Linked DNA regions of Homo sapiens. The protein of the gene in region 2 interacts with the protein of the main gene of each other region in a pairwise test. Each region holds a gene or a part of one and is shown on either strand. Other genes may lie near its edges. The genes, in order: ESRRG, NR0B1 and RORA.

Evidence for each region.
Region 1: the proteins of NR0B1 (region 2) and ESRRG interact in binary tests that used the Homo sapiens proteins (3 or more experiments, as listed by UniProt).
Region 3: the proteins of NR0B1 (region 2) and RORA interact in a two-hybrid assay, tested with the Homo sapiens proteins (one large-scale study listed by BioGRID and IntAct).

The regions. Positions count from the first base shown.
Region 1 is NC_000001.11:216,713,416-216,717,075, reverse strand, and holds part of ESRRG (estrogen-related receptor gamma), read left to right. Parts: intron 1-1,826; exon of another isoform or gene 1,827-2,002; intron 2,003-2,441; exon of another isoform or gene 2,442-2,560; intron 2,561-3,660. UniProt on the Homo sapiens protein: Orphan receptor that acts as a transcription activator in the absence of bound ligand. Binds specifically to an estrogen response element and activates reporter genes controlled by estrogen response elements.
Region 2 is NC_000023.11:30,303,638-30,306,482, forward strand, and holds the end of NR0B1 (nuclear receptor subfamily 0 group B member 1), read right to left. Parts: intron 1,187-2,845; coding exon 942-1,186; 3' UTR 569-941; downstream 1-568. UniProt on the Homo sapiens protein: Nuclear receptor that lacks a DNA-binding domain and acts as a corepressor that inhibits the transcriptional activity of other nuclear receptors through heterodimeric interactions.
Region 3 is NC_000015.10:60,501,759-60,505,418, forward strand, and holds part of RORA (nuclear receptor ROR-alpha), read right to left. Parts: intron 1,910-3,660; coding exon 1,777-1,909; intron 1,110-1,776; coding exon 1,002-1,109; intron 1-1,001. UniProt on the Homo sapiens protein: Nuclear receptor that binds DNA as a monomer to ROR response elements (RORE) containing a single core motif half-site 5'-AGGTCA-3' preceded by a short A-T-rich sequence.

The DNA.
Region 1 (3,660 bases), on a different chromosome or scaffold from region 2:
GAGGGAAACTTGCTTTTGATGTTTTGATTTCTTCAAATGATATGTCATTTTAATTTATGACAATGCATGTATACTTGGAAGGTAACTTACTGAGGCAAAACAATGAAAGAAAAGGTACAGTTTTAAAGAAATTGGCTTCCTTCTGGTCAGTTAAAGTCCATTTCAGTATACTGGCAAAGATCTATATGTGCATTTGAATGTAGCTATAAACCACGCAACACTAACAATTAGAAATACAACCTATGGCTATATGGAATTCTTTCAAACAATATAGAAAAGGAAAACACTTGGTTTTGGCATTTAAAAAATTTTAAATACCTATTAAATTGCCAAAACTTACAGGGAGCCTACTTCAGATTAGATTAAATTCTAAAAGAAGAACTGAAAAGTACATTTATATTTTAATTATAAAAAACAGTCTTTGTCATATATATTCCTCTGTGACTTCTCATTTTTCTTTGAGTGAAACAAAATTTCATATATACTTTTCATCATTTTGGTTGGAAGTACACATTATGTGTAATATGCTTTGGCAGGACTTACCTAGCCAAAGAAAACAAATTAATATTGGGCATACTGAGGGCTGTCAGGCATATCACAGACATGTCAATTTAACTTTGCTTCATTATACACCTTTTCTGCAAACAGTTGGCTAAGATGGTACTAAATAAAAGGGAAGCTACCAATAAATTCTCATATCAGATTGATGGCTAGTATAAATGTAATGAAAAAACAGCTTGCTTGCTTACTTATCTTTAAAAATGAACTGTAGGAATACAGATAGCATAGATAGCAATAAGTTTCCAAGAAAAAAATAAATTAGGTTCATTCAAATTTTTCTACTACCTTGAAAGTAAAATAGGTTTAGAAAGACAAAAGTCTCTGAAGTGGTGAACCTCAGTGGCTCTTATTTATGAAGTAAATAAAAACTTGAAGAAGTGGAGAATCCAAAGGAACACGGACAATCCACCTTTATCAGGGGACACCTCTTTTTGTTGCACTTTGCATATGTTTTCTGGAAAACAAAAAAATCTTACGCTTTCTTTTTGTATGGCATATTCAATATGCAAAAACAAAAGAAAATTAAAATATAAATTAAGAACTTATGTACAGAAAATAGGCAGAAGCACACTAAATTCTTTTTTTCCATGATCACAACAATACCTTTGTAAATGATAATTCCTTTTTCATCTACTCTAGAAAGATTTTACTCATTTTTCATGGCTTTTGAGAATTTGAACAAAGGATTCATTAAAGAAATATGTATTTTTTTCATACTCACAATGTGAGTTAAAATATCTTAAAAGGATACTTTTCAAGGCAGTTATTATGTAACAATATTTATAAGAACTTATGTTGCTTTGAAAATAATAGTAAATGCATATTAGTCATATATCCAGAACTGCATCCAAAATTAACCAAAATAACAGGTCATATAAAAAATTATAGACTGAGGTACTCATTAAAGAGAAAAAAAATAAACTGTGAGGTTGTTCAATTGATTGCCCTTTGCCCTCCATAATTCCAAATTATCCTAGTACATTAACTTCTCCAAAAATGTAAGATGGGCATGTTAAATTGTATTCATTTTCACATAAATAAAAGAATATTCTGATAATTTTTAATTTCTTTTCAGCCATTAATCCATTAAAACAGATCAGATATTTTGAGGAGGAATATCATACCCGTAACCAACTGTTCATGACCAAAGAAAGGGAAAGATGTATATGGTTGGTGAGAACCATGTCTTTTTCCTATGAGAAAGTGACTGTATACAGTTGGTGCTGGGTCCTATGAAATGACGGAAACATCCCTTTTATCCATAGACTTGAATGAGACCTGCCTCATCAGTCATGGGATCATAGTGTCACAGATGGAAAAGCAACTATCAGCTGAATTGTACTGAACTACACACTTGGCTAATTCATCTTATTGCTCTACACATCTAAAGGAAGGCTCATTCTGTTCTTGGAGTCTAGACAGCATCAGGAGTTGGGCTCAGGTGGGAGCATGTGGCCGCCTTTTTCTGTTCTCTCGTAGTCATTCAGCAAAGGGAGGTGAGGAACAAATGGACAATTTATGCACAGAAGCTCAGGCAGAGATTCTTTCCTAGGGTCAGGAATTTGTTGTTACTCAGTCATTCAAGTAGATTTCCGATTTCTCTTATGCTCTAGAAATGTCATTGTTATCTTTCATGCTCCAAAGTACTACCCGTAAATGATTAGGTGTGTCTTTCAATTCGTATGAGCCATGACCTAGTTTAAGCATTTTTTAATAGATAGAAATGGAGAACAGATCATCTATTTACATTAATGTGAATGATGATTCTTTTTTCATGTCTTTATATTGAACTATTCAGTTGGTTAAGTCTGAAGAATAAGACAAATAATAAGAGGTTAAAAACTCAAATTGTATTTTTTTATTTCTTTATTTTCTTATAGTGAACAAAACTTTAATGTCTAGAGCATTTATGAGGGTTTTAATGATTGGAAAATCTATCCTGAGAATGTGGTCACCATATGTGACAGCCTTGCTTTCTATCTTGTCTTCAGTTTCTGGGGTAAGTTCGGTGATATTGTCTATTGTCTTCCTTTGCTTACATTATAGAACTTCTCTGCTGCCACATTGAGATAACCTGAAGTGTGGGGGGAATGCCTGCTAAGTTCTAAAACACTTTCCTAAACACCTTCCCTTCCTCTATCCCGGCAGTATTTTCCTTTACAATTTCTGTTTCTATTCATCTGTTTTATTAAAGGGTCATTTACTTTGGTAAAAGGTAAGTGCATGATATTCACCCATATTTGCATACAGAGTACACCTGATTTTCCCTCTGAATTCCAAAGAGATTGCCTTCAACTTTTTATATTTGTTTTTCTTTTTGTTTCTGTTTGTAGTGCATTCTAGTTGAGTGCTTTTATAGTGTTTTCTTGATTGTTGTCAGTTTGGGATACTGGAGGCTGACATTTTTGCTAAGTTAATGTTACAGCAGAAAAACCTATGGTAAACTGGAATCTGGCTATAGTGCATAGAAGATACAACTTATGTTTGATTGTGTGTAAATACAGTTAGTTAGTTGGGGGTTTATCAGATAGCTTGGCAGAAAGAGAGAGGAGCAGTACAAACTGTTTTCAGTTAACTGTGCTGTTCATACACCTGATAAGACTGAGAGAGCTTTTCGAAATGCTGATAGGCTTTGAATAAGAAAAGAATAATCACTTCTACTGGCACCAGCTTATCAGGAATGAAGTAAAATGCCAACACTGTTACATTAGCAAAAGTAAATGTTTTAGACACTCTGTGCCTTTTTTCATTCAAGTTAAATAGGAGGGGTGCTTTTGAGTGTGCTGTTATGAATAGAGGGATTTATTACCTTGATGAAATTACAGGTGAATATGTTGATAAAAGAAACTTCAGCATCAACAGCAGCTTCTTTGATAAGCAGGTGCGTCTCTGCTGTACATTCTCTGGAGAAATTAAGTACTCCTTTCTCCACTCCAATTCTATTAAACATCATTTCTGATGTTAGAAGATGCAGTTATGCCCTATGTCAATCCAGTCTCCCTCTTTTTTCAGCAGATGGGTTACAGGTATTTGAAACTTAGCTGATCAGACTTGTAAAATGCTAGTGTGCTCTGGTTAAATAAGTTAGGGCATCTGTGA
Region 2 (2,845 bases):
ATACACTCATTAATAACAGGCAATTTATTGCCCATAAACAAATAGACATATAGTAGCCTTGATTTTATCTGGACACAAAGAAAAATTAGTTCTATGGATTATAATTAAAGGGGCAGCAGGAGATAACAATAAAGTTGCTTTATGATTTCATGCCATGTTGTTCAATATACCAGTTACAAACGTAATGTATCTAAAAGATGAAGTGTAATTAGTGGTTTTATAATGATGTTGAGCTTTCTGGAACTATAACCCCTCATTATAGAATGTATGTTCCTTGTGGATCTTTAAATCCATAACTGTGTACCAAAAAGATCCCCCAATAAAACAGAAAATCTCCTCTTTCACTTCTGCATGTCTTTATAATTACAGATTGCTTCTTGACTCCAGTTGGATGCAAACGCAGTCTTCCATACAGCTGAGGGAAGTGGAAATGAAGATAGAGCAAAGTGACCTCCCACTGATACTGGCACATAATTACATTCAATGTCATGTTGTTACTTCCAAAGATACTTTTTGCTTATGTTGGCTAGGTTTTAATAGTTTTTGAGGCCTTACTTAAACCCTGCTGAAGCTTTTTTCAATCAAGTTAATAGTTAAGACCTTAAAATTTATTATAACAATATGTACAAATTTGATTTGAGCAGGTTCCATGAAATTGCTACACTTGTGAAAATAGCTTATTATACTAGTACCCTGCTATTTTTTTTTTAAAAGATGTACAGAGCTATGCTACCTGTTGGCAAATGTCTTCTTTAACTATGGAACAGAGAAATTTGTGACTGTCTGGAATAAAATTATTTCTTTAATTGAATACAAAAATACTCTGCATGTAAAAATATTAAGAAAGTTTATTTTAAAATATTTTACACTCTTTTGCCCACAGCTCTTTATTCTTCCCTCATGGTGAACTGCACTACTGCACTTGTGTGGCCCACATGACTTTATATCTTTGTACAGAGCATTTCCAGCATCATATCATCCATGCTGACTGTGCCGATGATGGGCCTGAAGAACAGTTCAGCAATGACATTGGCATTGATGAATCTCAGCAGGAAAAGGGTACTATTAAGTTCGATGAATCTGTCATGGGGCCCTTGGTGCGTCATCCTGGTGTGTTCACTGAGTATTTGCTGAGTTCCCCACTGGAGTCCCTGAATGTACTTCACGCACTGCAGGCCCGGCACGTCTGGAGGGAGAAAAATCTCTTTGTTATAAAACAGCTCACCACAGAGTCCTTTGCTAGCTTTTTAAAAATAGCCATTTCTGTTTCATCCCAATTAAACAAGACCCAAAGCTTCCCGGTTAAAAGGGTAAAAGGCCAAACCAGTCTACGTTTTCAGAAGCAACGTGTCCAAGAATGAAACATCATGTGATCTTACTTAATATTTACTATGTTTCTATGCACACGTTTGCAAATACACTGGCCATGAGCCAACAAACGCACACAATTTAATATGACAGTAGAATACGGTTTAATGAATCATCACTCCAGTTCACTTTCTATGCAAATATGAAGAAGTTCATGATATTTCAAGAGGTGGGCACTTTACCTATGAGAAACAAGCCATGATAAACAAGAAGTGTTGCCATGAGACAAATGTTTTTACCATTCTTCTTTGAACTTTCCATCATTACACTGATCGTTCAGCCAATGGTGGTAAACTTCACAGCCACAAACTTTGACGCACAGTTTCATTTTACCTATTTGCCTGCAGGCCAATATTAGTCTAGAGGCCCGAATAATTTGAAAGCTAACACTGGCCACTTAGCTCATTGCACCATGATTTCTGTATTGGGGAAGATTTTGAAAAAAATAAAAGAATGATTCTAATGAGTGTTCAAAAAGGCTCTTTTCAAAAATATTAAAGTAAGAAGTTTTTGAAAATTCTTATAGTCATTAAAAGTTTAAAAAGTAAACATGAAAACATCACGAATTGTACCATGATTCAAGAATAACTTTTGTAATAGAAAACACATGACCTTTTGCAGTATAGTGTGATACCGAAGTAAAAGTGAAAGAAATAAATGCAGGAAAGTTTAAGTGGATGTAAGTTTTTATAAGGAAAGTAATAAGAGGAGGCTGCTTTTGAAGGTCCTTTGATCTTCCATGATGATAATATCGTTGCAAAGTTCTTTAACTTGTATTCAAGTAATTAGCAGTTGACCACTTGGTTTAAATGATGTTAATGATGATTGCAATCATTTTCCTTCCCTTTTCCTAAAAAATTCAACAGAAAAGTATTTTAAAAGCACCATGCCAATCATCACAGAGCAGCAGAACCAGTGTTCTTTAAAAAAATAATAATGGTAATAAGCGAGAGGCACTCCTATTATGGGCGAATATCAAATCTCATAAATAAGAACAAAAATAAAGCAACCATTTTAATCCATATTCCAGTTCTGATTACTCTAGTCCACACATTATCATCCCCTTCTATCTACAGCTTGAGATCCAGGCTTAAGACCCAATTTTGTTGTGTTTGAATTCCATCGATGAAAGTAGGAAGAGGCTTGCATGAAACTCCACCAGAAATCTGAAGCTTCTCTAGGTCTAGATTCATGGCTTGTGAAAACTTCATCTTGTGTATGCCACATTACTTTTCTCTGTGTTCACAATATACCCCTCCACCTTCTCCCCACCCAAGTGGTTCCCCCCCACACAGAGACACACAAACTGGCCTTCAAAATAAGGTCAGGGAAGAGAAAATGCAAATGGACTCCACAGTTTTATATCTCCTTAAGTTTGAACCTATATATATAATGTATTTAAATTTATATATGGGACATACAAAGGATAAACAGCAAAGAGAGGCCACACTCTTAATAGGCATTACCTTTCTCCCAA
Region 3 (3,660 bases), on a different chromosome or scaffold from region 2:
ATAATAATCCGTTTTCCAAAAGACTGGTTAAGTTTGGTGTCTATTCCTTCAGATTTGCATATTTTACATATAAATGTATATATTTAAATGACAATGTGCTACATGACAGTTCATTATATATATCATCTGTCATATAACTTTTAAAAAAATCACTCATTTTAGATACTTATCCATTCTTCTTAATAACTATGTTCATTTTATTTAAATTATAGAAATCCAAAATTTATTATTAATTATTCTGAGACAGAGTCTCAATCTGTCACCCAGGCTGGGGTGCAGTGGCATGATCTCAGCTCAGTTAAACCTCCACCTCCCGGTTTCAAGTGATTCTCCTGCCTCAGCCTCCTGAGTAGCTGGGACTACAGGCGTGTGCCACCATGCCCAGCTAATTTTTGTATTTTTAGTAGAGATGGGCTTTGCCATGTTGGCCAGACTGGTCTCAAACTCCTGACCTCAGGTGATCCGCCTGCCTTGGCCTCCCAAAGTGCTGCTATTACAGGCATGAGTCACCGCACCTGGCCCCAAATTATTTATTATAAATTATATATCATGGTTTCACTTAACTGTAACTTTTATTTCTTTGATATCTGCATTTCAGTCTCATTAATGGTTACTGTTTGAGGGGGATGGAAGGGCAAAGCTTTTGCCCTTTGCTTAATTTTATGTATCAGCTCACATCCTAAAGGTCATCCGAATAATATATCACCAGCAAATCTGGTTTCTTAAAATCTGGAAGGGAACTGGAAGGACACGTCATATAAATCCCTTTGATTACCAACTAGATAAAATGAAACTCTACATCTTTACAAGTAATGTAGACAAAAAACTTTTGAGCTATATGACTTTTCTACAGTGACTAACTAGAAAGTAAAATAGGTATAAAACCCCTTAATTTTTGTTTCTAAATAAAGTTTTCATTTTGTCCAAGCAGAGCTTTCACTCAACCCGCATCTTTTCCTATAGCCCTGATTTGAAGAAAAGGCACCTTGATATCCCCTTACCTAAGGATTTGAAGACGTCGGGGCTGGCATACTTCCCATCAAAGTACACGGTGTTGTTCTGAGAGTCAAAGGCACGGCACATTCTGATAAACACCACCTCTAGAGAACCTAAGCAGAGGCAGAAATGGTTTGGGTCATTTGGGTCATCTGATGTTAGTGAGTTTGTTTCTAAGCTGCTCATGTAGAGACTCCTTCTGCAACAGCATGGTGGGTGTCGTGTGCAGTTTAGCTAGCGGGTTCTCAGTCACATCAGCTGTCTATCCAAAAGGGCAGAGTTTTCTATGTAATTAAAAGACTGTTGTGCTGAAGCTAAGCCCTGTTTAACTGAAGTGAGGGTTGATTTATAAATTACTTCCTTAGCACTCTTCTACCTCGCAATGCAGAGTCTCAGAGTTGCTAGGAAAGCATTTATTCATATGTACTAAAACCAAGAATCAAAAACAAGTATATCTTTCTGAGTTCTACTTTCTTCTTCCTAACATCATAAACTCGGAGGACTTGGAGTGTAGAAACAAAACACACGTGATGGGAAAATTTGGGAATGTAGGTGACCTTCAAATTAATCTTTTCACCCAGAAGAGAAGAAAAGTGGGGGGAATGTTTCCTGAATATATCTTAAAACCTTTGAAAAGAACTCCATTTCTGCTAAGAAAAACCTGAGCTATTATCATTGGAGAAAAACTGTTCCCGACACCTTCCTTACCAAGCATTTCTTTAATAAGCGGGTGAAAGCAGGTTAGGAAGAGATCTCAAAATTCACTTGCAAAGCACATACCTGCTTTTAGAAGCACAATTTGATCATTTTGACACAGTTCCATAAATCCATCAATGCGTTTGGCAAACTCCACCACATACTGTATAGCTTCTGTAATTTTGATGGCACACAATTGCCACATCACCTCCCGCTGCTGTTAAAGAGGGAAACACATTAACATCCTCCAGGAAGATGTTAGCTTTTGTAGCAGAAGCTGCAGAGTTATGAAAGCAAAGCATGCCACTGCTTTAGCCCTGGGCCACGAAGAGTGGCAAAGTGGGATCTTATTTTATTTTATTTTATTTTTGAGATGGAGTCTCGCTCTGTCACCCAGGCTGGAGTGCAGTGGAACAATCTCAGCTCACTGCAACCTCTGCCTCCTGGGTTCAAGTGATTGTCCTGCCTCAGCCTCCTGAGTAGCTGGGATTAGAGGCACCTGCCACCACACCCAGCTAATTTCTGTATGTTTAATAGAGACAGAGTTTCACCATGTTGGCCAGGCTGGTCTTGAACTCCGGACCTCAAGTGTTGTCTGCCTGGGCCTCCCAAAGTGCTGGGATTACAGGGATGAGCCACCGTGCCCGGTCTGGATCTTCTTTTAAGTAATTATTTTGCCTTGGGAAATTTAACACCACTTTACTTTGGGGGAAGGGAGAAAAGGAGAATCAACTGAATTTATTGTGCACCTACTATGAGCTAGGCGCTTTATGACATCCTTGTTTTAATTCACTTTCATAAGAATATTTTTTCTGGCTGGGCACGGTGGTTCACGCCTGTAAACCCAGCACTTTGGGAGGCCGAGGCAGGGGGATCACTTGAGGTCTGGAGTTCAAGACCAGCCTGGCTAACATGGTGAAACCCTGTTCCTACCAAAAATACAAAAATTAGCCAGGCGTGGTGGTACACACCGGTACTCCCAGCTACTTGGGAAGCTGAGGCAGAAGAATTACTTGAACCCGGGAGGCGGAGGTTGCAGTGAGCCGAGATTGCGCCAGTGCAAGTGTCAGCTTGGCGACAGAGTGAGACTGTCTCAAAACAAAACAAAACAAAAAACTGGTGGATATGGGAGCCAGGATTCAAATCCAAGCATCTCTGACTCTAAAATCCTATTTCATATACTTTGTTGCTTCTTACTGTTTTCTTGCTTCTCCTTTGTAGCTTTGGCTGCTGGCATTACCTGCTACCTCAAAGGCAAACAAAGCAATGTGTTGCTATTCCCCAACATGTCCTGTTAAATTCCTTTTATATTCGCACTCTCCATTTCAGTTACAGAATGGTCTGGATCTTTTTCGTTGCTAACTTGTTTCCCCAATCTTAGTTTCAGACTGTTCCCACCGATATGATGGGGTGGAAGAAACACTGAATTAGGAGCCAGGAGTCAAGGTCTGGTCTTGATGTTTCACTCTCCAGACATGCCAGTGGATGTTAGTTTTCCTCAAATGTAAAATGGATTCACTTAGATAATCTTGTTGATCTGGGTGTTTTACAGAAAAAGGCAAGTAGGGTACTATTTGTCAGCCTCATATTGCTAGGTTCAGACTGGAGTTATGATCACAGCTTCTAAATTTTTTTTGTATATACTCCCTAATACAACTTCCAGAAACATGAGGCTTCCTTGTCAACTTCCAGAAACATTAGGCTGAGATTATTTTACATAAACTTCCAGACCTTAAAATCTTGATTGTGATATTGAGACAATTCTCAATTCATTTAGACTTTTGGAAGCTGCTTAATCTATTCTCCTGTTGACAAATGGAAGGAGGTATGTGTATACCTAGAAAGCACAATAGAAATTATTTGCTATTGCTGAAATTTTGCATCTGAGTTAAATGGCAAAGCCTCAAGTACATTAGTAGCTTCAGAAAAAAGATATTTAAACAGAAACCTGATGACATTCATTCTTTA